Linked DNA regions of Homo sapiens: regions 2, 3, 4 and 5 are each linked to region 1. Evidence: fine-mapped expression QTL. A gene starts in region 1. Each other region holds a variant in brackets. All regions are shown on one strand. Distances are from middle to middle. Region 1 holds the start of HS6ST1 (heparan sulfate 6-O-sulfotransferase 1). Region 2 overlaps HS6ST1 (heparan sulfate 6-O-sulfotransferase 1). Region 3 overlaps LOC105373611 (a long non-coding RNA gene). Region 4 overlaps LOC105373611 (a long non-coding RNA gene). Region 5 overlaps HS6ST1 (heparan sulfate 6-O-sulfotransferase 1).

The links.
Region 2: its variant is fine-mapped to the expression of HS6ST1 in whole blood (TOPMed, PIP above 0.99). The same link has a PIP of 0.9 or more in blood mononuclear cells.
Region 3: its variant is fine-mapped to the expression of HS6ST1 in nasal epithelium (TOPMed, PIP above 0.99). The same link has a PIP of 0.9 or more in unexposed skin.
Region 4: its variant is fine-mapped to the expression of HS6ST1 in whole blood (INTERVAL, PIP 0.98).
Region 5: its variant is fine-mapped to the expression of HS6ST1 in whole blood (TOPMed, PIP above 0.99).

What each region holds. Positions count from the first base shown.
Region 1 is chr2:128,315,685-128,321,445 of GRCh38, forward strand. It overlaps HS6ST1 (heparan sulfate 6-O-sulfotransferase 1), which reads right to left and starts at 3,184. Exons shown (of 2, transcript NM_004807.3): 1 at 2,353-3,184. The coding sequence starts at 2,879. RefSeq lists an enhancer at 1,042-1,191 and silencers at 2,193-2,422, 3,117-3,526.
Region 2 is chr2:128,262,653-128,268,413 of GRCh38, forward strand. It overlaps HS6ST1 (heparan sulfate 6-O-sulfotransferase 1), which reads right to left. Exons shown (of 2, transcript NM_004807.3): 2 at 2,828-5,761. The coding sequence ends at 5,510. Among named protein-coding and RNA genes, the nearest start is that of HS6ST1, 53 kb to the right of the region's middle. RefSeq lists an enhancer at 1-422. The variant C/T (reference allele first, on the strand shown) is at 2,739.
Region 3 is chr2:128,486,940-128,492,700 of GRCh38, forward strand. All of the region lies in intron 1 of LOC105373611 (a long non-coding RNA gene), which reads left to right. Among named protein-coding and RNA genes, the nearest start is that of HS6ST1, 170 kb to the left of the region's middle. RefSeq lists enhancers at 4,820-5,621, 5,436-5,730. The variant A/G (reference allele first, on the strand shown) is at 3,062.
Region 4 is chr2:128,569,692-128,575,452 of GRCh38, forward strand. The region is part of intron 1 of LOC105373611 (a long non-coding RNA gene); the gene reads left to right. Among named protein-coding and RNA genes, the nearest start is that of HS6ST1, 250 kb to the left of the region's middle. The variant C/CA (reference allele first, on the strand shown) is at 2,898.
Region 5 is chr2:128,284,784-128,290,544 of GRCh38, forward strand. All of the region lies in intron 1 of HS6ST1 (heparan sulfate 6-O-sulfotransferase 1), which reads right to left. Among named protein-coding and RNA genes, the nearest start is that of HS6ST1, 31 kb to the right of the region's middle. RefSeq lists enhancers at 1-555, 3,050-3,879. The variant C/T (reference allele first, on the strand shown) is at 3,514.

The sequences.
Region 1 (5,761 bases):
CGCCACAGCAGAGCAGCTTAGCCCAGCTCCAGCCTGGGCCAGAAGACTCAGGTGGCGGGGCAGCGCTCAGCAGGTGGACCTCAGTGCAGCTTGGCCCTGCGAGCACAAAGGCAAGATTACCTTGGCCTCCTGATGAAGCTCATTAAAAAAGCAATCTACCTAGTGCCTGCAACAGAACTGAAGGGAGTGGAGGCGGAGAAGAGGGACTCGGAGGGTGGGGTGCTGTCACCTGCCCGGTAGCACAACCCACTTCCAGAGTGGGTGGCAGAGGGGGCCTCCTGACGGCCCTGGAAGCCCCTCCCAACCCTGGCGCATGCTGCTGAGCTAGCAATTTCCAGGCTGGCAGCCCACCTCCGCCAGAGGCATCTGCGTTTTCCATTCTTGCTCCACACATGCTCCCTGGGCAGGGGGAGCCGGGCCTTCCTGGTGTAGCACCTGGGGCCCCATCGGCCCCACCTGGTCCTCCCACTCTCATGGACAAACTCCAGAGAAAGGAGGCCAAGGCTCTTCACCCTGGGGACCCACAGGCGTGCGGGGCTGCAGGAAGAGCATCCTGGTTGCAATCTAGGGCTGAGGTGGCCTCTGCTGAGCAGGCTTGTTTCAAAAGCTCCGGCTTCTTGGCGGCCCGAAGCTTCCACGCAATCCTCTTAGGCTGCCGAGCTAAGTCCCTCTGGCAAAGGGGGTGACCCCCATCCTTGCACCCCCCACAGGTAGGGAGGCGTCTGTTGGTATTGGTCAGTGACCAACTCTGGGAGCCTACTGCTCTGACTGGTGGAAGGGTGGGTGGGGGCATGGCTGTGGTCCCAGGCACAGCTGAGCCTAGCACAGAGAAGCTGGACCAGGGTTAGGGGGGCCCTGCAGCAGGAACGTGCATCTGTGCAGAGCAGACTAAGTGCTGGGCCGGAAGCAATCCTTCAGGGGCCCTAGACAGGCAGCTCTGTGACCGCCAAGTGTAGAATGTGGCTGTAAGAGGCTCAGAACATCACCTCCCAGGCTGGGAGCTGCAGTGTGTGTGTGTGTGTGGGTGTGTGTGTGTACAGTTGGGGGAGGGGGGAGAAAGAAAAGTGGGAAGATGCCCCTCCAACTCTAGGACCCCAATTTCCTGACAGCCTGAGAAAGACCACAGAGCAAGGATTGAGGTCTGTGCAGGGGAGCAGTGTCTCGGACTCTGCTCAGCTCCAGGCTGGCTGGACCTTCCAGGCTCCCCAGGCACACCTGAGAGCCTACAGCCTCTGGACCCAAGAGTGCCAGCCAACACGCCTACAACCGCCCAGCCTCCTACCACCAGCCTGTCTGCAAATTCAGTCCTAAGGCAAATTTGGAAGAGAAACAAAAGGCAGACAAGAAGCCCTGCTCCTGGCCCTTCCCAGCCCAGACTTTGGGGAGAAAGGCCCCGCAGGGCATCCCTGCAGGACGAATGGGCACCAACAGGAACAGGAGGAAAATAACCCCAACTTTAACTGCTGGAAACCCAGCAGCACCCCAGGTTCCCCTACAAACGGCTTCCCAGAAGAGCTGCCCCGGCACCCCTCCCATGCTCTGTGTCCTCACGCAGCTCAGCTCTGACATGGGGCTGGGGGACCCCAGAGAAGGGGTGTGGCAGCACAGGTTCCCTGGACCAGCTCAACTACCCCCAACCTGGCTGGTAGCTTCCTGGGGAAGGTGGTCCCCCATCGGGTGGCTTTTGTTCCTCTCTCCAGGCAAGCCTGTGCCTGGAAGAATTCGGCTGGCAGGCCCCACTGGGAGGACAGGCGGTACTGCCTCCTCCCCGCCCCCAGCCCCAGGTCAACAGGGCCTTTGTTCTACCTGCACACACCGGCAGGCAGGCGGGCAGAGCCAGCCCCCTTCCCTGGCAGCTCCCCCACCCTCTGAAGGCAGGCACTCCAGGCACAGGGGCGGCACCTCACTACTCTCACTTCCACTTTTGGGACCACAGCACCGAAGCGGCACGGGGAAGCCAACACTCCAGGTAGGCCACGCACACACCCAGAAGCCCGCGTCCCCAAGTCCGGCGGGCCAGACCTCACGGCGCACAGCAGGTAAGGTGGCCCGAGGGCAGCGGGCGGGGACCCTGGAGAAAACCCGGGCGCTGCGCAGTCAAGCCGGCAGTAGGGCAGCACAAGGCAAGGAAGAGAGTGAGAGCGAGGTCAGAAAGCGCGGTGACAGCCGGCTCACCCAGAGGAGCTGGGAGCCTCGGGCGCTCGGCAGGTCGGGAGGGGTGCCGGCGAGTGGGGGCCCCCAAGAGGGCAGAAGGGGGTAGGGAAGGCAGGGCCGACCCAGTACAGCACGGCGGGCATACGGCCCGGCCTCGGGGGCGCAGCTGCGCGAGGATCCCGCCGCCCGGGCGCTCACCTGGGCGTGCGCAGCGCGGCGGAGTCGCGGCGGTCCAGCACGCCGGGCACGCAGTTGGTGAGCTCGGTCCAGTCGGCGTGCAGCCCGCAGCTCCAGCCGGTGGAGAAGCGGGAGAAGAGCCAAGTCTCGCGGCGGTTGGGCCGGTAGCAGGTGCACTTCTTCTGGCCGGGCCGGCAGTCGCACGGCACCTCGAGGCGTACGTTCTGCACGAGGTGGCGGCCGAAGGTGGTGCCGCCCGTCTTCTGGATGTGCAGGAAGACGATCACGTCGTCGCCCTTCATGTCGAAGCGCAGCGAGCGCTCCAGCTCGCGGACCGGGAAGTAGTACTTCTTCTCGTAGTGGGGGTCGGGTGTGGGGAACAGGTCCAGGTCGTCGGGCGGCGCGCGGCCGCCGGGCGCGCCCAGGCTCAGTCCTGGGCCCGCGTACTGGTACAAGATGAGCATGAAGCACACCGAGCCCGCCACCACCAGCACGAACTTGCTGGCGCGCTCAACCATGGTCCTGCCGCCGGCGCGCCGCCGCCGCATGTGTCACCATCGCCGGGGCCCGGGCGCGGGGCGCGGGGCCTGGGAGGGCAGGAGGCGCGGGCGCAGCTGCCTCCGCCGCCGCCCGCGCTCCGGCCCGGCCCGGCTACTCGGCGCCCAGGCCGCCCGCAGCGGCGCGGGCCCCGACCCTCCGCGGTGCCATGGCTGCTCCCCGCCCGGCCCCGGCTCCCCGGGCCCGACGCCCGACTCCGCTCCCGCTCGGCCCCGCTCCCGGCCCCGGCCAGCACAGCGCTCTCCGCGCCCCCAGCACCAGCCCGCTCCGCTCCACTCCGCGCCGAGAACGCTCTGCGCCGCCCCGCGCGCCGCCGCGTCTCCGCAGTCCGCCGCCGCCGCCCCGCCCCGGTCCGCCCCTGGCCCGCCCCCGTGGCGTCTCTTGCCGTCGCCGCCCGCGCCGATCCTCGGCCCCGCCTCCGGAGTGCCGGGGTTCGCCGCGGGTGCTGGGCGCGGGACCTGGGTCTGCTGCGGTGGCGAGGCCGCTAGCAGGCGGGCAGCCAGCGACTGGGAAGTGATTCCGCCCTCAGGGGAGTGGGGGACCAACCGGCAGTGCGGAGCCGAGGCGTGGGAGGCTCTCCTGGCGGGGGCCGCGGTGAGGGGGCGCGGCGGCTGGCGCTTCTGGAGCCTGGGTCCGTACCCCCTCCTCCCCAAGTCCCAGCCGCCCACGTCCCCGCAGCCCGCGCGGGAGGAAAGGCCTTGACCTTGCACGCTGGGGCGCTGAAGTTAGACGCTAGCCTACTGGGCTGCACTTCCAGGGACCAGGGCGGCGGGGGCCGCCCACCACCAGGACCGAGAGGGAAAGCGAGGCTTTCCTTTCCTGCTCGACCCCCTCACCCCTGCGGCTGGCTTTGGGACAGTGCCCCGCAGCCCCGCATTGAAGAGATGTTGGGCTGTCTGCAGAGGCCTGCGGAGCGGCTTTATGGCTTCCTCCTTGTTTGAAAAGAATATCAGACGAGGTGCATTTTCCCCCATCCATGTTTATTATACTCCAATGAAAGAGTTATAAAACATTGAGCCAATTCTTAAGAATCGTGAGTGCCCACCAAATATTCTGTCTTTCGTGGGTTGGTTGGAGAGTCCAGCGGCCCGGGCCCAACCTGGCTGCGGAGGGCTCGCTCCACGTTGGCTCGTGTGTGGGCCGGGTGGTGCGGGCTCCTCACTCGCCGCCGCCCAGCCTGGCAAGCACGCGCGGCATTCGTGGGGCGGGGGGTCCCGCCAGGTGCCCACTCACACTGCTTGGGCTCTGGCAGTACTCGGAGGCTGCAGCCCGTCGGAAGCGCAGGAGTGGGGCTGGGACCTGCCAGGATCTCACAGCTGCAGGGCCGGCCGCGGTGGGCCCTAGTGTGTTGGTTCAGGCCAGCGAGGGCTCTGGGAGCGAGTCTGGCTGCCAGGCGTGGGCTCCCAGTGTCCACGTCAAGCCCTGCCGGGGACGGGGTGGGGGGGGAGGCGGGGTGGTGCCCTGCCTTCCGTTCTGTTAGGGACCGGAAGCGATCATGGGGTGTCAATTATGCCTCAGTAAAGCTGTTAAACGTAGACAACATCACACCAGAAAGCCCTCCTGGAAGCAAACCCAGAGAGCTGGAAAAACCAACACCCCAAACCCAGCTGAGCGGGCGGCATGCATTTTCCAAAGGGACCGCAAGAATATCCGCTGTGGACAGGCGGGTGCAGAACCCTCAACACAGCCCAGCGCACCCTGGAGTCCATGGTGTGGGGTCCTCAGTGGGACCTAGGGCCCCAAAGCCCCTGCTCATCTTGTAGGCTGCTTTAAAACTGTCCCTGGCCCGAGGGTCCTGGGGGCAGCTTGGACAAGCTTCTCCAGAAGTGACTCATTCCTATAGGAGTGGGGGTGCAGTCCCCATGGGACACAGGTGGGGCCGCCCTGCAGTGTGCTTGGACCTGCCTGCAGCCCCTTGACGCAGTCTGTGCCTGAGCCCTGGGGAGCCTTCCTGTGTGGCCTAGGGGAGCACAGCTGCCCCGGGTCCACCCCCCAGATGTCCTTACCCAGATAAGGATCCTCGTGCTACATCATAATTAAGGCTGCTCTTTTGGAGACCTGCTGGGTGCCAGGCATTGTAGAGGTGTCATTTCCAATTCCATCAGCAAATCTGCGGGGGTAGGCTGTGATATCCATTTACAGAAGAGAAAACTGAGGTTCAAAGGGGTTAAGACCCTGGTTCCAAGGTCAACCACTCTCACCCCATGAGAGTCAGCAGAGCTGGGATCCTGATTCCTGCTGTGAGCCCCAGAACCCTCCCCTTCCCCACCTCTGCACTTGCCCCAGCTCCCTAGGCCAGGGATGAGAGCGTCTACAGGGGCCACTCCTGAGAGCCTGGTGACCGTCACTGCCACCAAGGGGGAACGTGGGCCCAGAGTGTTCAAGGGAAAGCTGGAGCAGCTCCGAAGGCCAACGAAGCCATCGGTACTTGGGCCATGGCTCCACCCTGTGATGATCTCACTGTCCCAAGGGGGAAACTGAGGCCCAGGCAGGGACGAAGTGCCTGTGATAAGGTCCCACCCTTGAATGGGAGCCAGAGCAGCCTGACCCATGGAGCAACATCTCCCAGAACAAGCTATTTAATCCAACTTCATACCTGCCACACTGGCTGATGGGAAGCACTCACATTAGCCAGGAAGCCCTTTCTTTCTAGAATTCTTTTAAGAGGAGGGAAATCTGCCTGGCTGGCTACAGGACTTTGCTCAGTCTTCCACTTTGATTGAAGCCCTGCACAGGCACCTGAGACCCTAAGGCTGTAGGTGAGTTTCTGGGCTCTGAAAGTCAAGTCAGATGAGCCACCCATCAATCAGTGGACACTTGAGCCGAGTGGAAGGCAGCTCGAGCCCTCGTTGGCGGGGCAGCTTGCATCACG
Region 2 (5,761 bases), 53 kb before region 1:
CAGGGGACCCAGACCCAGGCTCTCCCCGCCAGGGGTGTCCTTGGAGCCCTGAGGTGAGGCCCTCCTAGGAAGGTGTCCTCATGTCATGAATACACTGTGTGCCCTCCGAGTCCTCCTAGGCTGGAAGCTCCCCGAGTCCAGGTGTACACTCCCGGGAGAGGACTTAGGGCTCCCACCTTTGCGAGGGTGGCCTGAGGATGGGTTCCTCTCTGTGCCACAATGAAGGGGACCAGGGGCCCCAAGCCAGGCACCTAGACCACGTCTAGGTAGGGTTAGTTGGGGCCCAGCTTCCCCAAGGAAGAGAACCCAGCGCTGTGTGCAAAGGTGCCCCCAGCTGAACAGGGTGTGAGGACTGATACTGGCCTGATGGCTTTGGCATGAAGCCCAAGGGGAGCAGTGGGGAGCAGGCCTAACAGGCCCATCCAGGGACAGGGCCGTGGCTGGCCATGGCTGGAGCAACTGGTGTGAAGACAGAACGCCGGGGCAGGAGGGATGAGGCATATGGCGCTGGCCACGAGGCTGGGTGGTAGAGGAGCTGCCTTTGTCCAAACCCACAGGCCCGGGAGCAAGGGCAGATGTGGGTTTCCCTGGCAGGATAGAAGGGGGCAGGGGACCTCGGAGGATCGGGTGAGCCTGACGCTCACAGTGGGGACTCTGTGGCAGTGGGCAGGAAGTGGGGATGAGAGCTGGGCAGGGGGCAGGCCTGAGCCTCCTGAGTCTTTGGCTCAGGTGGACTTCATTCATTTATTTATTTATTGAGACAGAGACTTGCTCTGTTGCCCAGGCTGGAGTACAATGGCATGATCTCCGCTCACTGCAACCTCTGCCACCTGGGTTCAAGCGATTCTCCTGCCTCAGCCTCTCCAGTAGCTAGGATTACAGGCGCATGCCACCACGCCCGACTATATATTTTTGGTTAGAGACAGGGTTTTACCATGTTGGCCAGGCTGGTCTCGAACTCCTGACCTCAAGTGATCTGCCTGCCTCGGCCTCCCAAAGTGCTGGGATTACAGGCGTGAGCCACCGCACCTGGCCTCAGGTGGACTTTAATAAAGTGGCCTTCGGCCAGGTAACAGAACAAGACTCTGTCTTTAAAAACAAAAAAAGGTGGCCTTCAACTCTAAAGAGAAGCAGGAAGAGGAAAACCCCCATTCTGGGTGAGGTATTTTCAGGTCTGATTTCACCTTTGATCATGACACTGGCCCTACAGAGTCCAGTGGTACTATCAGAAGGTGGAGGAAGCTTCCATCTTGGCTCCCCCGAGGGAGAAGCCAGGCTGAGGGCTGGTCCACACCCCAAATAAACCTCCGCATGAAGTGTCCAGGAAGGACTCGGGAGTTCCTCTTGGCGTCTGGCCTCTGCTCCTCCCTTCCGCACTCTACCTAGGCATGAGCAGGTGTTGACGTGGAGTCTGAGACTGGGGTTTTAAGAAGGCAGCTACGTTCTGACTCCTGCCCTACTTGTGCCGTGACCCTCCCAGAAACACCTTGATGACCTTTGTCACTGGGATGGTGGCAGGTAGAAGCCGTGACCCTCCCAGAAACACCCTGGTGACCTTTGTCACTGGGATGGTGGCAGGTATGAGCTGGCAGGTGACCACTATGGCTGGGTTTCCCCAGGGGCTGAGTGGGGAGGCTGGACTTCCCTCATCTGGGGAACAGAGCCACAGGACACCTGGGCTGATGGAAGGTGCCTCACCCGAGGGCCTTCCTACCCAATTTCACCGAATCTGACCACTAGGAAACTGACATCTGTAGTTTTTTTTCTTTTTTTTCTTTTTTTTTTTTTTAGGAATCTTGCTCTGTTGCCCAGGCTGGAGTGCAGTGGCGCAATCTCAGCTCACTGCAAGCTCTGCCTCCCGGGTTCATGCCATTCTCCTGCCTCAGCCTCCTGAGTAGCTGAGGCTACAGGTGCCCGCCACCAAGCCCGGCTAATTTTTTGTATTTTTAGTAGAGACGGGGTTTCACCGCGTTAGCCAGGATGGTCTCGATCTCCTGACCTCGTGATCCGCCCGCCTCAGCCTCCCCAAGTGCTGGGATTACAGGTGTGAGCCACCACGCCCGGCCAACATCAGCAGACCTTTTAAGACAACTGGTCTCTACTAGTCAAATATGTCAATCCTAAGAAAGACGGAAAAAAGAAGGGGTAGCTGGGACCCTCTCCTCCATTCAAGGAGACAGGAGAGGCACATGGGGCACCGTGTGGTCCTGGGGCTACAAAATGCTCTGAAGACATCTCTAGGACAACCAGAAGATCTGGATATTGGAAAATACTGTATTGTTATAAAATCTGGGGGGGGGGCTGGGATAACAGGGTTGAGTTTTGTGGCAGAACGTCCTTAGGAGACACGAGCTGATGGATTTAGGAGTGCAGTATTCTGATGATCACAACCTACTTTCAGATGTTTCAGAAAAGCGCGCGTGTGTGCGTGTATGAGAAAGTGTGGGCACAGGATAAGAGAAGGTGAAAAATTTAGGCCAAGAGCATGTGGGTGTCCATGAACTATTCCTCCACTCTCTTTGTCATTTGAAATCTTTCAAAATTTCCAAAGACAGGGAGGGAAGAGGTTAATGAGAATGTAACTCAGTGGCACCTGCCTCCCTCTCAACTGGTGTCATCTTCCCAAATACTATCACTAATGATTAATAAACGGTTACTCTTTATGGTGATGACAAAGTCCCATTTTTTCTTTCAGAATGCCTTACTTAATGGGACTTTCCTCACTGAGCCTCCTGCAC[C/T]TGTGCAAAGCACCCCGCCCTTGGGACGTGGTGTGAGACCCCACTGGGAGGGGCAGCTATGCCCGCAGAGACCACAGCACACCCGCCACTCCTTGTCAGGGTTTATTTCATCAGCTAACATTCATTCTCGACCTAGACAAAAACAATTAGATGATTATGACTTGCTTTTCCATCATCAACTCATTTTTTTGTATGAATAACCAAAAAATTTCTTCAACACTTTTTTTTAAGAAGAAGCTATAAATAAATAAAGCTTTAAACAATCCTGGGTTCAAGTTAAACAGTTCCAGTTCCCGAAAAGTTCACAGCCTTGTTTTGTGGGCAGTTCTGCTGTTCCTGGCTTCCCCTTCCAGGAGGGGACGTTTGCAGGTCTGGGGGTCCTGGTGACTAAGCTGTTAGCTCCACTCCCTGCCTGTTTCCGTCCTCACAGCCCTGGGAGGGCCCCGGTGGACAGAGTCCTTACAATTTAGGAGATGCTGCTGGCAAAGGAACTGTTGACCCAAAGCAGGTGGCCTGAATGGGAAGTGCCAGGCTGGACACTTGGGGGCTGAGGGCACTGCCAGCTGCCGCCGCCTCTGGACACCTCAGCCCGGCGCTGGCCCGAGAGGAGACTGCTTTCCAAATGCAGCGAAGAGACTGAGACAAGACCCGTGCTTCCGTGTGAGTTGGGATGCGGGGCATAAGTTAACACATATTCCAATATGTACAAAACAACCTGCGCTCAGGCCCGCGCACCCAGGAAGCCCATGGTGAAGGTGAGGTCACCTTGAGCCAGGCCTCTGGCTGGGTGTCCACCTCCTGCCGGGAAGCCAAGGTGCCCCACGTGGCTTGTGCAAGACCTCACAATCCCCTGAACGTGTTCCTCCTCCTCCAAGGAGTGCACCCACCCCCATGTTGAGTGTCCGAGCAGATTCCCATTGACCCTGACCTCCCTTTGAAAGAACCACACCACTAAATCCCCTTGGCACTCACTTCCTTAGTGTGATGCATCCACCCAGGGAGGTGGCCCTGCGCGGCGCTGGCACGCTGTCCACCCTGCCCTGTTGACCATCCTGTCCTTGGACCCCAAAGTAAAATGGGGCCAGTGTAGGAGACCTGAGGGTGGGGCCCTTATGCCAGACCTCCAGGGGTAGCGACCTCACCTGACCCCAGCTTCGGCTTCCTGTGCTGCAGAAGGCGCTTGCTCCCAAGCCCGTGGTGACCCACGTCTCCACCCCATGGTGTGGCAACTGTGGTGGCTGAGTGGAAGCTGGGGCAGGAGAGAGGACCCCCACCAACCCCAGCCAGGTGGCCTGCAGAGCCCACTGCCCTACCTCTGAGTCAGCCTGCGGCCTGAGCACACCAATCTACTCTCTGGGGGATCCAGGGTGCCTGTGTGGGCCCTCCTAGAGACACCAGCTTGGCCTCCTAGGGCATAAGGAATGGGGACAGGGCACAGGGCACGTGCTTACAACGGATATGCAACATGGCTTTTGGTAGGGCCATTGCAGCCAGTGGGGAAACCTGCGCGGCTGCTGGGAACAGAGCATGGCCAGCCTTTTGCCAGGGGGTGGGGAGCATGGGGAAATGCAAGGAGAGCCAGGGTGGGGAGGGCTGAGTGTCTGTTGTCAGGGAGGCCACCTACAGCTGTTTTGCCAAGGCTAGTTGAGAATCTGAAAGCTCGAGTCCCAGTTCCTGGCCATACAGAGCCACTGTGGTCCGAGGGTACGGCTCCTGGGCAGGGGCTATGGTCCCATGCTCCAGCCGATGGAAGCCTGATGAACTTAATCCGTACGCTGGTGGGAGCAGTGGTATTTGAGCTCTTGAGTATGTGTTTCGGTGATGGGGCTGGGGCAGCCTGCTAGCAAATCCCAGTGGGTCAGAAAGGAGAACAGAGGCAGGGGAGCCCTCGGTCCCCAGCCCTTCCAGTCTGAGCCAGGCCTGCCTGGATGGTCACCTCCAAGGGCCAGCCGCGGACTCACGCACAAGTGGCAGCATCCCTGGCCAAAGCCTCCCCACTCCTGGGCTGCCAGTTGGCCCGAGGAAGGCCGGCAATGCAGCTCGGGCCTACTACCCAAACCCCTCCTTGGTCTGAGGACTGTAGGGAGTGGGTGGGGCCTGAACATCAGCTTTGGCCTCCTGACCCAAAGCATGAAGCAGGACCATGGGCCAGAGAGGGGAGCAGGCTTCCTGGGGGCTGGACTCGAGTCTTCTCTGCCTCAGATGGGGTGGGCCCTGACTTTGAGGGAGCTACAGATGGGTGAGCTGGGGGCTCCCCAGGCCTCGGGGCATTGGGGGCAGCCAGAAGAGGAGGGGCTATGGGATGGCCTGGAGCTGGGGCAGTTGCCAGAAGCTGGTCTCACTCCTAGTAGCCCGGACAGAGGAGCTAAGAGCGAGTGCTGTGTGCATAGTTGGTGAGGGACACACTCCCGGCCTGGCAGGTCCACTTTCCGCTGTCCTCGTCTCTTGCGCAAACCTTCAGTTTTTGCGATAAATCCAAGGAGGCCAGGAGAGCAGCTCCAGGCACAACACCTGCTCTGGAGGCCCTGCCCTGACCATGGCATCCTTCGAGCACGCTTTCCTCTGACCCACTGGGCTGCACCTGTTGATTTCTCAAGCCCCCATCCCTGCCCAGCCCCACTACATCCCTGCTCTGTTTTTTTTCAGGACGCAGCTACCTCTGTGGAGCAGGTTTGGGATGCTCATCCCTTGACAGTCTTGGGTGGACCTGTCGTCTGTCCTGTTTTATCCCCCACACCCCCCAAGAGGCCTCCCCGTGGCCACCACCGCCACTACCACTTCTCAATGATGTGGCTCATGTAGTCCTCGGTGGGCACGCGGCCCGGCTCGTCGGCATCCTCCCGCGGCAGTGCCTCCTTGGCCCGGTGCAGCAGACGCTCCTCGCGGCTCCTCAGGCGCTGCTCCCTGCGCTCCAGCTGCCGCTTGTACTGGTAGCGCTGCTGGAAGAGGTCCTTGGCGTAGTCGTACAGCTGCATGTCCAGGTCGTTGAGCTCCTCGATGCGCCGGATGGTGTCTTCATCCAC
Region 3 (5,761 bases), 170 kb after region 1:
TGTCAAGAACTCAAGAATAGGGGCCGATGTGTGTCTGGGCTGGGGTTGGAAAGCAGGCCAGCATGTCCCCAGACACTCTCACGGCTGCCTCAGCCTCTGCTCAGATGTCCTCTTCTGATCATTCTGTTCAGCCCATTCCTGTTTCCTGCTTTAATCTCTGTAGTACATCTCATTGTGTAACTTACTACCTATTTTACTTGCTCACTTGTTGGTCTGTCAGCCCCAGGAGGACGGGAACTTTGTCCATCTGCGAGGGATGCAGGAAGGCACAGAGAGGCTTCAAAATATATTGGCTAAGAGCTCAGGGTCTGGAGTGGTCCTGATTCCAGGGTTACTGGTGCACATTCCAGATTCATCTCTCACAAGCTGTGTGGCTTTGGATGAGTTACTTAACCTCTCTGTGACTCAGTTTCCTCATTCTCAATACAGAGATAGGAATGGTACCCACCTCCAGGTTGTTGAGAAGATTAAATGAGATGATAGCTGGGAGGTGCTTAGCAAGGTGTCTAGTGCAGAGCAAGCCCTCCATAAATGTGAGCATAAACAAAACAGCTGGTGGAGTGGCTCCTCTCAGCTTCTGTCTGTCATCAAGGACCTGGGGGTTCCAGTATGGCTCCTCACAATGCCTGCATTCAGCCAGAGAGAAGGGAGAAAAGGACAAGGCGAGGCACAGCCCTGCCCTTTAAAGACAACGCGGAAATGGGGCATCATTACTTCTGCTTAACACCCCACTGGCCATGATTAGTCACATGGCCAAATCTGCTGCAATAGAGTCTGGGAAATGATTTCTGTAGTCTAGATGGCTGGAAATCCAGCTGACAGTGGAGAGAAAGGGAAGACAGATACTGGGGAACCACTAGAAGCTCTGCCACATGAATTTATTCAGCATTGAAATTTCTATTTAGTAGTACCTCCTCCAGGAAGACTTCCCTGATTACTCTTCCCTCCCCAACCCCATGGGTCTCTTCTCTCCTCCTCTCCCCTTTCCCACACTGTTCTGTCTAGCACTGGTAGCACTGGATTTAATTTAATTAAATCTAATTGTCCACCTTTTCCAAGGGACTCCTTACCTGCCTCCTGTCATCCAACACAGATGACCCCAAAATCCATTTTAAAAACCTCAGAGCAGAAACAGGAGATCAAACGAATGAGTATTAAAAGCAGATAATGTAAGGTGAAGACAGGGGAGGTCAGAGTCAAAACTGCAGGGGTGGGTGCTGGAAGAAGGAAGAGAGCCAGTGCTGACCTGTGTCCACGCCATGTGGGGCATGGGATAGGGGCCGACAGGGAACAGCTTCTTCACTGGCTCCCACTGCCCACCTCCTCCTTCAACTCATTCCTCTCCCAGCAGCCTGGGGGCTTTAAGAGTCAGTGCTTTTTCTTCTGTTTAAGAACAACTTCTTACTCTTCATAATACATGAAAAGTTCAGATAACCCAATAAGATAAGAAATCTAATAGGAAAATAAGCAAAAGACATGAAAGGAAATTTACAGGAGAGTTAGCACACCTGGCTAAGAAATGTATCAAAAGTTGTCCTACCTTAAAATTAATTGAAGGAATGAAAAATTTAAATAACACTGACAAATCATTTTTAACAGACTTTATTTTTTGGAGCAGTTTTAGGTTCTTATAGCAAAATCGAGCCGAAGGTACTGAGAAATTCCATACATACCTTGAGCCCACACACCACAGCCTCCCCCACTGCAACATCCCCCACAGGAAAGAATTTTTCATCTATCAGTTCAGTAAAGATTCAAAGGGAACCCATATACAATGCCAGTGGTGTTGCTGTACTTGTTTTTGAGGGAAAATATGGAAATTTTTATGAACATTTCAAATGTGCTTACCATTGACTCAATAATGCAGGTTCTAAGAATGTGTTGTACCTGCACAGATGCATTAAGTATGTATAAGGATGTTTATTTCATCAATTCCCAGAGAAACAACAACAACAACAACCGAATGGAAGTACTCTAAATGTAGATGGCTGGGAGAAGATAAGATAAATAATACCCATGAAAACAGTAGACTCCTTTGACCCTATTAAAACAATGAAATTGATCAGTCTGCACTGATATGGAAAGACGTCAATGATTGTTAGATATCAAAGCAGCATACAGAACAATGTTTATCTCTGTCTATGTTTGTTAAAAAAGTAAAGATGTAAAGAAAAATGTCTGTAAAGATCTAGAAGCAGTGGTTAGCCTGAGAAAAAATGGAAGTGGAGAAATACATGCTCTATTTTACTCATTTTCTAAAAAAACCTAGCATATGTTATTTTTGCAATCAGAAAAAACAATAAAAGTATTTCCACACACACACAAAACAAACTAGAAAGTCAGACCTGATTAAAATTTGTGATTTGCAAATATTCTTTGATGAGAGATGGATAATCAGGATGGACTCAGCCAACTGTGGAATGGCTGAACATCAGCAAACCTACATTCCACCTTAGCTGGTTCCTTGTCCCAGGATAATGACCCAGGCACACCCCTGGGAGGCAGTTCCACTTCTTTGCAGCCTCATTTTCCATGACTTCCCCAACAGGTTGCCTCTTCTGGACATCCTTTCATTCCTTATCCCACTGGAACTGCCCCTCCTCCCATCATAGCTTATCATAGTCACTCATGACCTCCAAGTTGTAAATCCCACTTATCTGTGCCCCTCTTTACTTCTCAGCAGTTTTGAAAGCCCTGCTCTGCCCTGTTCTCAGTTTTTGGGCATGCCCTCACCCTGAGGTTCTTATCAGTCCCAGCCCCACCCTCGGCCCCAGGCTGCCCCTCTCGGCCCCCTTCTCCTCTCATCTGGATGTGGGAGCGCTGGTTCTGACCCCGCCCTTTCCCTTCCTTGTCTCTATTCCTCCCCAGGGGACCTTACCCGGCCCTTCCTCCCTTTCTCCTGGCAGGACCCCACAAGTTGTTTCCCTCCACTGTTTCATACTGACAGAGGAAAGAGACAGAAATGGAGACAGAAAGGCGGGCCTCCAAAGATGTGCAAGCTTGTAGGACCTGATTTTCCTCTCCTCAAACTAAAGGAGACCAGGCTGTCAGGCTCTGAGCC[A/G]AAGCTCAGCCATTATAACCTCTGTGACCTGCACATACATACACATCCAGGTGGCCTGCAGGAGCCAAGAAATGGGGAGCAGTCAAAAAACCACAAAGAAGGAAAACAGCCAGTTCCTGGCTTAACTGATTAACCAACATTACAACATTTTACTATTGTGACTTGTCGCTGCCCTACCTTAGCTGGCCAATCGACTTTGTGACATTCTTCTTCTGGACAATGAATCTTATGATCTCTCCACCATGTACGTTGTAACCCCCTCCTCTGCTAACAATAACCACATTTTACTGTAATTTTCCATTACCTACCCAACTCCCTTCCCCATTTCCCTTTGCTGACTCTCTTTTCGGACTCAGCCCACTTGCACCCAAGTGAATAAACAGCTTTATTGCTCACACAAATCCTGTTGGTGGTCTCTTCACACGGACGTGCTTGACACAGGCAAAGGAGAAGGAGGAAGGGAAGGGGGAGCAGCTCTGGAACAAGAGAGGAGGGTTCTGCAGAGGCAGGCGGGAGTTCTTGGGGTGAAGCATTTATTCATGGGAGGAGAGGCTCACAGGATATGACCTCAGTAAGCATCCAGTCCTTGTCACATAGTCTTAGGCACGGCCTACTGCCTGACAATCCCAGACACATTGGAACAGAGGGGCAGGGCCCTGGGAAGGGGCTTGAAGGGAAACTTCCCTACCTCCCTTTCCTGCACACCTGGCCCTGGCTGGAATAGAAAAGCATCATTTGGGAATAGAGAGCAGCTGTGGATCCATCACGGCTATCCCGCACACCATCAACACCACTGACACCTTCACCAACATTTCTAATTCTGCCTTAACCTCTCCACTGGGCTGCAGACTTACATCCAGTTGTCTCTAGGACATGTTCACTGACTTGTCCAACAGACACTGGCACTCACCAGCCTCAGGGGAAAGGCACTACCTTCCACCCACAGTCCAACCCCCAGATCAGGGAATCGCAATTCCTCCTTTCTCTACATCCTCCACCTGCAGGTCTTCAGGGTGCGACTCTGGGCAGGTCGTACTCTCCCTCCACTTAGGATTTCTCATCTGGAGAATGGGATAATGCCAGCCCCAGCTTCCAGACTGTTGTAAGGATTCAATAGGACGGATCATGTAATGCCCTTAGCCCAGGGGTTTGTGCAGGCAGCAGTCAATATGTCTTCATCATTGTTCTTGTTGGCTGGGCCAAGAGACCCTGCTTGATAGGAGAATCAAGTTCTGCAGTGAAGTTGGTGGTCTGGAAGCCGGACTCTAGCAAGGGGTATTTTGGCCTGGGTGTAGGCAGTCCCCACTCTCCACTTATTAGTCGCTCTCTGGCCTGTGGTCAGAAGCCTCCAAGGGACTGTCCCATGTGCAGTGTTGTCAGCAGTGGCCATGCAAATGGTGCCCGTGGGGCTGGCAGCACTACCCTGTCCCCAGCTGCCCGCAGTTGGTGACCTCTTCTTCCTAACACTTTGCTTTTGGTTTACCTCCTCAGCATGGGCCTGCATTTCCACTGCGTAATAGAACTAAGCTGTGGGAGCCAGTGTGGGCGGCAAGGGGACTTGGTGGCATTTGAGAAGCATTGGACAGCAGACACTCCTTGGTCAGCCCTCCCCTCTGAAAAGCAGAACTCTGTGCTGCAGCCCAGACACTGGAGAGCACCAGCCTGTCTCCTCCACCCTCCAGCGAGATGCGGGAGAAATATTCTCTCTCATTCTTTCTCCTGAGTTGTGCCTACTTCCATTTTAAATTCCGCCAAATGATCCCTTAATCTAATAGCAATTGCTAACAGCCTGGCCCTGAGAAGTCCTCTCTGCATTTCAATTCCTGCATTATCCCCTTCTTGCTGGCTTAGTAGAGCCTCTATTCCTTGATGCTTTCTAAGGCAACTAATCACTCAAACGAGGCAGAATAAACCCATTTAGACCAAACATGAATTATTTGCAAGCCAAACCCAGCACTGATGTTGGTCTAAGGTATTTGGAGCGTTATTTACATTTGTAAGTGCAGGCATTTTGATGCTAAACCTCAGGTTAAGCTCTGGGAAGCCTGACTGGCCCTGCTAGCAGCATTCTACTGCCAGGAGCCCTGCGGCTGGGGCAGTCTAGCTGGGACCCTCTGCCTGTCTGTGGACAGTGGGTGCTCTGGGTCTGCGTGTTCCCCAAGGTGAGGCTGGCTCTCTTTGCTCTCGGTAATCCCACCATCCTGCAGGGACCCAGAGCACTCGGCCCTCAGAAAATGGGGCTGTCAGTGGGAGGGCGAATTTATCTTCTAGCTAGGGAAGCAAGAAGGATGCTGCTTTTCCTAAGGCTGTTTCAGGTGCCAGAAGAGGCCCACTCAAGATGCCTCAGGAGGGCTTTCAGCCTGTGGAATCTGCGGTTTTGAGAACCTGGGGCCTGGAGCAAAAGAATAGCAGGGCCCCTAGGCTGGGCCTGGGTGAGGAACAGTGCAGTACTGAGCCCACTTGTTTGGACCGAATGCCTGTTCCCCCCAGATGCTTAGGCTGAAGCCCCAGCCCCCAATATAACTGCATTAGGAGGTGTGGCCTTTGGGAGGTAACTGGGTTTAGATGAGGTCATGAGGGTGGGGCCTTCAGAATAGAATTAGTGCCCCTACAAGAAGAGACCAGGGAGCTTGCTCTCATTCTCTACCATGTAAGAAGGTGGCTACCTGCAGGCCAGGGAGAGGGCCTCCCAGAACTGGA
Region 4 (5,761 bases), 250 kb after region 1:
AGGAATCTCCATACGGTTTTCCACAACGGCTGTACCAATTTTCATTCTCACCAACAATGTATAAGGGTGTCCTTTTCTCCAAACCCTTGCCAACACTTACTGTCTTTTTTTTACAGTAGCCAATATTTTGAATGTTTGCATGTTTAAGATTGCCCATTGCTAAACGTGGCTTACTAGGAAGTTTATGGTCATAGCTTACTCCTATGAATTTCAAATACCTATTTCTGAGGTTTTCTGGAATCTGGTGGTATTAGGAGAAATCTAAAGGCAGCCTGGTTTCTTTCTAGGTAAGGAACTTTTTTTTTTTGTGGGGGCAGAGTGGGGGGGCTGGATACCTAAAGAATTTCTTCTTTATCCTAGCAAATGATTTGATGTTGATTTTCCTGTATCATTATCTTCTGAAATATGTTGTGTCCATTCAAACTTTAGTTATACATTCTTCCTTTTTCTTCAGGAATTTTTTTCTCATTTTCATTGGATATTTTAATTTCCATTTGGTAGGTTCCCTCATTTAGGGATACCATTTATCCATAAGTTGGATACTTTTTGTTTGCTTTTCATGTCCATTGATATCTGTTTAATTACTTTAATCATGTTATCTTTTCATTCTGCATTAATTTTGATTATATTCAGTATTTCCTCTATGCCAGAAACTTGGTAATCAGTCATGTCTTTTCTTTTCTGTTTCTAATTTACTTATTAGTTCTGTAAAAGCTCTTTGTTTCCTTAGCTCCTTAATCTCCCCTTGTTATGCCATTCTACCATTTTAATCATCTTTAAAATCTGTAAATCCACCATAGTGTAGCAGAGCCCTTCCACATTTATCTCCTGTAATCCTTACGACAATTTTAAAGAACAGATATTATCTTCTTGCCTCAGCATCTTACTATAAAAACTTTTCACATACAGGAAAGATGACAGAATTTTACAGTGAACTCCCATCTTCTTAACACCTAAATTCTACAACCAAGATTTTATTACATTTGCTTTACTATCTCTCTTTCTTTCTAAATCTTTCTTTCCATTCCTCAATCCCTTGCATTTCAAAGTTGCAGACATCAGTACACTTCCTCCAAATACATTAGCAGAATCTCTATTTTTGAGTTCTTTCATTGCCTTTCTGTTCTGTGTAAGATTTTCTTTAACATGAAGCACTCTTGGAATTTTCTACCATTTTTTATTCCTCCCCTCTCCATGCAAGATTTGATTATTCATCTTTTTTTTCTTTCCTAGAATGTTTTAACATTTTATCTATTTATTTTTGTGATCTTATATGAGGTGACTTCAAAAAGTTGGGAGAAAAATAGAACTAAAAGATAAAAGTAAAATATATAAAATTTATTTCTCAACGTAAGTTTCATCAAGTTCAAGGCACTTTTGTAAGTGGTGATACCAGCCATTTAGTTAATCTGTAAAGAACTGAGGATCCTAGGAATTTAACCATATCAGTACAGACTTTTTTACATTGTTAAGTGAAGAAAAATAGGTGCCTTTAAATAAATTTTAAGGTTAGGAAGCAAAAAGAAGACAGACGACGTCAAATCAGTACTGTAAGGTGGCTGCCTAGTGATTTCCCATTGAAATACTCACAGAATTGTCCTTGTTGGATGAGAAGAATGAACAAGAGCATTGTTGTGGAGGAGGACTCTCTGATGAAGCTTTCCCAGGTGTTTTTCTGCTAAAGCTTTGGCTAACTTTATCAAAACACTCTCATAATAAGATGTTATTGTTATTTGGCTTTCTGCAAGTCAACAAGCAAAATGCCTCGAGCATCCTAAAGAACTGTTTCCAAGTTCTTTGCTCTTGACAAGTCCACCTTAGCTTTGACTGGACCCTTTCCACCTCTTGGTAGCCACTGGTTTGATTGTCTTTTGTCTTCAGGACCATACTGGCAGAGCCATATTTCATCTATTGCAATTCTTAGAAGAAACGCTTCAGGATCTCGATCCCACTTGTTTAAGATTTCCATCGGCAACCCTGCTCTTGTCTGCAGCTGATCTTGGTGCAACAGTTTTGGCATCCATTAAATGGAAAGTTTGCTCAACCTTCAGTTTTCAATTACATTGTGAACTGATTGAGAGGTCTATGGTGTTGGCTATTTGTGCTGTTAATCACCAGCCCTCTTCAATTAGGGCACAAACAAGATTAATTTTTTCCTGGCAAGTCGATGTAGATGGTTTGGTGCTGTGGGCTTCATCTTCAACATGAACTCATCCCTTCTTAGAAAGAGTTATTGATTTGTGAACTGCTGATTCCTTTGGAGCATTGTCCTCATAAGCTTTTCATAAAGTATCCATGATGTCACTGTTCTTCCACCCAAGTTTCACCGGAAATTTGCTCTTTGTTCTTGCTTCTATTTTAGCAGAATTCATATTGCTCTGATAGGGACTCTTCAAATTGTTGTCTTATCTTTCCTGTTTCCCCAAACTAGATTCTGTTCAGACATGTTATAACAAGTTAGTACAAGTTTATTTTGGCACAAAAGAATTTGAAATCCCTGCATAGTTTTTTTGATAATAGACATTGACCATGAACTTTTTGAGGACCCCTCCATAGCTGCTATGCCATCTCTTTTCATTTTAATGTATGTAGCTCCGTCAGGTCTTCCCATTGGTTGGCTGGGCGCAGTGGCTCACACCTGTAATCCCAGCACTTTGGGAGGCTGAGACGCGTGGATCACCTGAGGTCAGGTATTCGAGACCAGCCTGACTAACAGGGTGAAACCTCATCTCTACTAAAAAATATAAAAATTAGCTGGGCGTTGTGGCAGATGCCTGTAATTCCAACTACTTGGGAGGCTGAGGCAGGAAAATCACTTGAACCCGGGAGGTGGAGGTTGCGGGGAACTGAGATCATGCCACTGAATTCCAGCTTGGGCAACAGAGTGAGACTCCTCA[C/CA]AAAAAAAAAAAAAAAGACGTCCCATTGGTTTCAACATGGTGTGGGAAATGCCTCCTGGCCTCGCTTTGCATTTTATTGGATGTTATTTTTTCTTCCCCTCAGAGTTTCACTTTGAGGGCTAGGCATATCATGGTTTCCTGTAGCTGGATATGGGGCTTGTGCAGAGGAAGGTGGGGGTGCTGGGCTGTGGTCAGCGGACACTCTGGATCTAAGAATGCCTCTGCCCTGCTATTTCATTGGGAAGTTGCTTCCACTAGGGTTCTCTTCCACTGGAAGACTTTAGTTCAAATCAGAGCCCTCCTCTCCCATGGCTCCTCTGCAGGCATCCTGTCTTAAATGTCCACCCCCCTCCACTCCAGGTGTTTTGGAGGGTCCCCTCTGCCCTCTCTGCGGGTCTGTTTCCCACTGTGGGTCTGTAAGGAGCTACACAGAACTGCACCCAGCCTCACTATGATGACTCCAACTCACTTCAACTCTTTCTTTTTTTCATCATTACTTTCTGAAATTTATGTTGAGGATATCTCTACTTCATAATAAGCTGAGCCAGGTTGTATTCACTTAATACGGATCAGATGTGACACAAGCTATTCACAATGGCTGCAGTTAGCAAGGCTAGGTCAAGTCTTCTGCTCATCCCGTCTATCCCAGCGCCTCAGGGCTCCTCAGATGGCCTGGGCTGCTCACCATCCCTCCTTTATCTGAAGAGCTAGGGACAGCAGAGCCAGCCACAGAGCTCCAAATGCAAGACACAAGCGCTTGATCGCACTGCCCTCTGCCTCTGTCCTGAGGGGACAGCGTTCCCATCCAGCCCACTCAGGACATTGCTTTGGTGTGATGAGCTGTGTGGATCTCACAGTGGGGCCTGTTAAAGAAAGATTTAAAAAAGATTAAAAAACCCTCGGTCCTAGGCTCAGGTATGAGCCTGTCACCTAAGGACAGTATCAAGGAAGAAGAAAGACAAATGATCCTCCAGAAAAATGGTCACAGGACATGATCACACATTTCACAGAAGAAAAATCCCTAGTGGCTAATAGGCATGGAAAAATATGCTCGCCCACCCCAGCTGGGGCTGGGGAGTGCCCATTCATATGGCCACGGGACACCCCTGGACAGGGTGCAGCAGTGACAAGAGGGACGTGGGCTGGGGTAGCATAGGCTGTGCTGCTGGGAGGAGAGGAGCTCAGCCAGCCTTGGGGGACAGGAAGGTAAGCCCTGATGAGGCTGAATAAGTAATACTGGAGAGTTTAGCACCAGGCACCCTCCCCAGGGCAGCACCTCCATGAGAGGGGAAGATAGGAACAGGTTTCAGGAGCACTGTTTACAGTAGTGAAAGATCGCCATGCCCACCGGGGGGAATTGGATAAATAAATTATGGTGTATTCCTATGCACACATTCTAACAGCAATGAAAATAGACGAACTAAATTTACATGACTCCACTCCAAGACCGCTTAGAGCAACAATGGTGAGTGAAGAAAGCATGTTTCCGTGTTATAAATTCAATGTGACTTGGTGTAAATAGTAATAATAAAGCATCACGCTGCACTCTTTAGATGCACGGCCAGATTAAAATATTCTTCTCAGGACGGGAGGAATGCATGCTAACTTCAGGAGAGGACTTTGCTTGCTGGGAAAGGAGTGGGACAAGGGAGGGGTACAGGGCAAACCTCAACTGTCGCTGTATTATTTTATTTCTTTAAAACTCTCCGAGGCACCTGTGGAAATGTGAAGAGCAGCTGCCCGGGAATCCTGCGTGGAATGAGCAGAAGTGGTGAAGGGTCCTCTTTCCCTGACTGTCGCTTAGAAAGACCCTCTGCTTTCATGCAGGTCACTTTCTGGAAGTACTGCATGGAGTGAGTGAATGCTTGGTGGAAGGGCAGCTGTGTAGTTTACCTGTGCCTGCTGAAATCCAAATGCATCATCCGGGACCAAGTGAATTCAATAAAGGAGGAGACTCCTACTCAAGCAGGCAACTAGACTTTGAGGACAGAAATAGGAATCTGGGCCTAATGAAGAGAGCTATGTTAGCTTTGCTCTACAATGCAATTTACGTTTACTTCTTTTTAAGATAATGTGAATTCATTGCCTGGTTGACATTTATCTTATTTCTCATATTTGGGCATGAGTGTGATTTCACCCCCATTGTCCACAGCATGCTGAGCAGCACTCAGAGCAGCAGTGTGGCAAGAGTCAGACTGAACTTCTTGTCCGCAGTCTGACCTCCGGCAAGCCTGTTCATCATTCTCGGCCTCAGTTTCCCTGATGGTAAAATGATGGGTGTCACTAGATAATCTCTAATGTGTGGCCCAGTTCTAACATTCAAAGGTAAAATGAACTGCGTGCAAGAAGCACCCAGATGTCTAGGAAGTAGTCCCTGCCTTTGTTTTGCCACAGAATAGGCATAAGATAGAACCGAGTAGAGACAGAGAAGCTGCACTAAAATCCTTTCATCTCAACAGTTTGCACCTCCTGAATTTCTAGTTGTTTTCTTTAAGAAAATTTGCTGTCAAATACCAACATTGCTCATTTGTTGATTTTCCACTATACTTGGCTTCAACAATAAGCTCTGCTTTGTATCAAAAGCCCAGAGACGTGAAGTGCATTTGTTCTTGGAAAATTGGGAGGTGGATCTATTTATCTACTGATTATAAAAGTTATAGATTCTAACAGAAAATTTAGAAAATACAGAAAAATTTAAAGAAGAGGCCAGTGCTGTGGCTCACACCTGTAATTCCTGCACTTTGGGAGGACGAGGCAGGCAGATCACCTGAGATCAGGAGTTCGAGACCAGTCTGGCCAACATGGTGAAACCCTGCCCCTACTAAAAATACAAAATTAGCCAGACACGATGGTGTGCACCTGTA
Region 5 (5,761 bases), 31 kb before region 1:
AGCCCCATCGTCCCTCTTAACGGGGCTGACTGAGCCCCTGAGAGGTTGTGACTTTCCCAGGGCCAGAGCCAGAAACGGAGAGGGACCCCACGGCTGCAGACCCCCACCCCCCACCTGGTGGTTTGGGCCTAAATGCTGAGCTCAGTTTTTCTGGACCTGCCAGTGCTCCTCCTTGGAGGCTTCCAGGATGTCATCACTGTGGCCCCACTGGCAGGCCTGGTGCCCGGGCCTCACCAGAGCACCCTGTGCTGCGACCCGACCTCTGGCCTCCAGGAAACAGGCGGCATGCCAGAGAACACACGCTGATGGAGTGCCTACTGCGTGCTCTAGGTCGCCGACCACCAGCCAAGCCCTGGGGCAGCAGTCCCCATCTAGCCTGTTTTCCAGTAAGGGAAATGAGTGTTCCACGCTCTCTGGGTTCTACCCTTCTTCTTTGTAGCCTCCCAGCCAGGGGTCTGGTGGAGGTCTGACTCCTCTGTCCTGTGCCCTTGGATGTGGTATGGAGGAGGGGAGAATAAGGCAGCCCCCAGGTTCTGGGCGCACCCCACTCCCTACGTGGGAAGGGCAGGTGGCTCCCTCTCTAGCCTGCCGTGGTGGCAGGGTCCACAGACCCCACTGGGGCCCAACAACGTGAGGCCCTGCCTTGCCCTGCACTGGGCGCCTGTGTACCCAGTCTCCCAAGGCCTTGTCCCACCTCACAGCCAAGCTGCTCACCTGGATGCCTGCCGCTACGGCCCAGCTCTGCTACCCTGAGGACTCAGCTGCACTGTGCAGGGAAGGTTCTAGGACCAGGGGAAGCCTTGGGGGATGGGCAGGGCTGTCTGCCAGCACCTGGGCCAGTGAGGCTCGAGGAAAGGCCCGTCTGTGGCACCCCTGTCTCTGCCTCCACCCTGCCAGGCTGACTCCTGCCTGGGGGTCCATACACTGTCTCCCTTCCCATGGTGGGTGTCCCTGCCTGCCAGTTACTGCTCCCAGCTGGCTCGGACAACCATCCCCATGGGCCAGGGCCTTTCTCCACTGATGGGTGGTACTGGGAGCTGAGGGCCTCCACCCCACCCTCAGGCCGGCAGTGGGACAGGTGCCGTCTGCCCCAAAATAGCTCTGTCCGGCAAGGGGGCTGAGGAATTGGATGAGACAGCCAGAGGGGACACAGGTCCCAGTGTCAGATGGATGAACAGGTGGGATTCCTGCTCTGCCAGCTGTCCTGTGTGGCCTGGGGACAGTCACCCTGGCCCCTCTGAGCCCCAGGGACTGTCTCCATAAAACTCGTAGACAGAAAGCCACTTCCCAGACTGGCGATCTGGTGTGTGGCGTATGTAGGGAGACTTAGAGCCTACAGCACCCTGCAGGGGTGAGGGCTCATCCAGCCCAGGACTGGCGTGGGGGACCCCAGCAGGTGCAGCAGATGTGAGCTGTGTGATCTCACCTTGTCACAGTCCCTGTCCCATCCAATCTGCCATTCCTATTCCTCCCTCCCAGGGGGAATCTATCGTGGCCGAGGTCTGCGGGCTGGAGCCAGGGTCCTGCTCTCACAGCATCCTGCAGGGCCAGGAACATAGACACTAAAGACCCAGGCAAGCAAGCGCCAGGGAGGGGTGGGTCAGGGGGCCTCATCAGACTGCAGGTCAGGAGCTTGGAGGACGAGGAGGAGCAGGCCTGGCAAGGGGGCTGGGGAATGAATTCCAGACAAACCTGCAGAGCAGCAGAGGACAGGCAGGAGGCCGGGCAGGGCCCCTGGGAGCTTGCACTGCACGCCCAGGCTTTGCAGGCCATCCAAATGCACGGGTTGGTCAGAAGAGGAAATGAGTTCATGGTTTCAAGGACAGGACACTGCTATTAAATGGTGGGAAAAAGGAAAACTTCTGACCTTGTGTCAAAATACTGACTTGTTAAAAAATAAAAAACAAGAGGCTTTATTAGCGTAGGTTTAGGAAATACCTCCTCAGCCCCTTCCCTAACAACGTCTGCAAGCGGGTGAAAATCTTTGCTGGCTTTACAAACAAGGTCAGCAAAGGTTTCAGAAAACAGAGCAGGCTGCTGGCCACGATACGCCTTGCCTCCTGCAAAGCTGTGCCCACCCAGATAGAGAAACCAAGGCCCCACCTGGTTGCCTGGGGAACAGCATCCCCCAAAGCAGGAGGCCCCTCTGAATGCCTCCTAGGAGCCTGAGACTCCCACCTTCCCCTTGGGGTGGTCGGGGAGCAAGTGACCAGGAAGCAGAGGCCCCACACTGGGGGAAGCCCAAAGCTTTTCCTTCAAAGCCCCCTGACCTGCATGATCTCATTGCGCCCTGACAAGGAACCCTCTGGGGCAGGGGGTGGCTTAGCCATCAGGTGGACACACACTGTGGGGTGCCATGCAGGCCACACCCGCCACACCTCCACAAAGGCACTGATGGGAAGGAAGCGCCCAACCCCTCCTGGTCCCAGGAATGGTCACTCCCATTCCTGACCAGGGCAGTCCCCCTGCAAGAGCACCTCAGTGGATATATCCAGGGCCCAGGGCACTCCCCCAGAGAAGGTGCAGGTGAGGCCCCTTCCCCTGAGATGCACTGCCCAGCTGTGGGCAGGGACAGCTGCCCCCCCTACTCAGTGAGGGTGAACGAGACCCCCAGCAGGTCCCCTGACGGGCTGCTTCTCCAACAGCACTGAAGTGGGGGTGCACAGAGAACTGGGCAGAGAGCCGGGATGTGAGGCTTAGGACTGCCTCCACCTAGCAGGTGTCAGGTAAGGCTGTGACTTCTGGAGGTCCTAGAAGTCACCCCCAGGGTAGGGGCCACAAGAGGAGGTGCTGACAATGTCCTCCCAGCAGGGCCAGCTAGAGACGCCGGGTCCAGGGGTGCTCTGCACCAGCCCTCTTCAATGAGGGGAGAACAGGCGGATGGCTTTCTGGGAGCTTGACCCTGTCCAAAAGCCCAGCATGGCTGTGAGCAGCCCGGGCCCAGATGCTGCTGACTGGACACCTGGAATGGGGCTCTGCCGAGGTCTTCCATGAGCAGAAGGGGTGAGGACCACCTCCTCACCTGTGTCCCACTGCCCTTCAGACTCTCCTGCCTGCTGCTCCAAGGCAGGGCTCCAGCAAGGCCATGAGGGCCCTGCGGGGCTGCTCGCCGGTCATGAAGGCTGCCCATTCATATTTCACACCTGCCTGCCTGGCACTTTCTGGCTTCTGACACCGGCAGGCGAGATGTCACTTATGCCTGAACGCACACACTCATACCTTGGGGTCAGGAGAAGGTGACAGTGCCCTGCTTCTTCACAGGGCACGCAGTCGAGCAGCAGGGCAGCTGACTAGGGGCGGGCTGGCTCGGCCTGAGACCTGTCTCCAGAGCCATGGCCTCCTCTTGTCCTGGCCAAGAGCTCTGGGGCTCACTCCTTCTGCTTCTAGGCCTTTTGCTGAGGCTATTGCGAGGACTCACGTGGCCCTTCCTCTTCCTTACAGCCTGTAACTACACATCCACCATGGCTGCTTGGGCCCACCAAGAGAGACGTGGAGGCCCGAGAGGGAGGCTGG[C/T]GGCAGCGTCAGGTCCTGCCGGGGTGTGCAGTATTTGTACCCTGCTATGAAACTGTCCCTGCCAGGTGAGAAAGTGCTCAGGGCCCTGAGGCCAGCCAGCACGACTTGATACCTACGCCCGGTGACTCCATGGCAGTAGAAAAGCACAGCCCTTCTGGGGACTCTGCATTAACACAGAAGCTCATATCTGTGTGCACAATGGGCAAAAGAGCCACATCAAAGCTTGTGGGTACAGCCTGATGCCAACTCTGGAAAACACATCAACTGGAGAGATGGAGCAGAAATGCAACCCGCGCCAGGTGCCCTGGGCCTAGTGCCCTGGGCCATTTTTTCTTTTACTTTTTCTGTATTTTTCCGATTTTATATAACCATGCATGTATTAGAAAACAAACAAACAAACAAAACAATCTAATCTGACTTTCTCACAGGAGGTAGGAGAGTCAGGGAGGCCTGGGAGGCTCAGGGCCTCCCCAGCAGCCTCTCAGGACATCTCCAAAGCCACAGGATCATCACCAGTAATCAGCCTTTCTCGGGGTCAGGAGGGCGAGAGCTCATCTGAGGATCACTGGGGGTGTCCCTGGGACCCCTCCAGGCTCCACCTCCTGCTGACCCCACAGCAACTCATGTCAGGGTCCGAGGCAAAGTCCTGGTTCTCACCCACGACCCCACAGAGCCTCTCTGCAGCGAAGAGGGGCTGACACCTGCTCCCTCAACCCCCGAGTCCATATAAACACAGAGGCGGCCGCGGAGAGATGGCCTTGCATGCTCTTGAATGTAGACTATTCTTCCCCAGACAGGGAAATTCAGAGCCTAAACAGCCCACCCCAGAGATAAGCCATTCTGTGCCCAAGCTAACTGCAGTATCCAACTCTATACTCCCATGGCCCTGGCTCTACTTACAAGGAGGGCGACAGCTCCGGGTGATGCACTGAGAAAGCTGTCACCTGAGCAGTGACCCTGGGGACTCGGGAATGCTGACTCTCCAGAACCAGCCATTTTATGGCCCCCCATCAAGCACTTCTGTGGTTGGTGCCTCCAAAAAAGGTTAGGGCCCAGCAGGCATTTGCTCATTTTATTCCTGCAACCCCGGTACGGTCGCCACTATTAGATCCCCCTGCAGATGGGCAAATGGAGACTCAGAGATCCTTCTGCAGCCAAAGTCTCCCAGATACCAGAGGTGTCTGACTTCATAGGCCACAAGGCATGTCTGCTGCTCACCCACGTGCACGGTCCCTGAGATGAGCAGCACGAAGCTCCCAGGAGAACCCGGCGCGCCATTGGCAGCACCAGAAAACAGGTCTCCAGCTTGCTAAGGGATCTGCCATCCAGCAGCTGTGTGGCCCTGACGAGTTCCCCAAGGAATGCATCTGTCATCTGTTTCCTCCTTGCACAAAACAAGACAATATGCCTCCTGGAGGTCACAGCATGACGCTCGGCATGAGGATGGGCCCACCCCAGCTGGCAGGGAAAGAGAGGAAGCTGCCGGAACAGACCTACCTGCTTTCACCAACCACAGGCCAGAGGCACCAGGAGAACATGTAAGAGATAGAGAGAGGATAGCTGTCAGTCAAATTATTTGTATAAAATGTCCAAATATAAGTCACAAATAGCCCGATAATCTCAAAAAGCAAAAATCAAAGCAGTAGTTTAAAATCTTCCTAAAATATTGAGGAAATGCCTGCAGCTTACATTCAAATGATTCTACTAAAATGCAAAAGCATGTATATAACTACATATATAAATATACATGTAAGTACACATGTATCTACAGATATACATATATGTAAACAGCAAGTGAGAGCACCCACTCACAAGCACAAATATTGCAAAATGTTAACAAGCAGTGGGTCTCGGTGAAAGGTATGAGGTTCACTTTACTACCATTTCAACGACTTTGTAAGTTTGACATTTTTCAAGATAAAAAGTTAGGGGTAAAATTCCTACAAAGAAAGTGCTGGGCTATTTCTACCAAATTTTAAAAGAACCAGATTTTTGTAAGCAAACCCTCCTAGACAAGAGTAAAGCAGTGGACACTCCCAATTCATTCTATGAGGCCAACATAATCCTAATACCGAAGTTGGACAAATGCACAAGAGAGGAAAATTGCAGCCTGGTGGACACATCTGCTAAGCTCAGAGTTCAAATATAGATACAAAAATTCCTCAACAAAAATCTTATCAAATCCAACCCAATTGAGCATATAAAAGATATTACACTACGACCATACTTAGTAACCCCAGGTATGCAA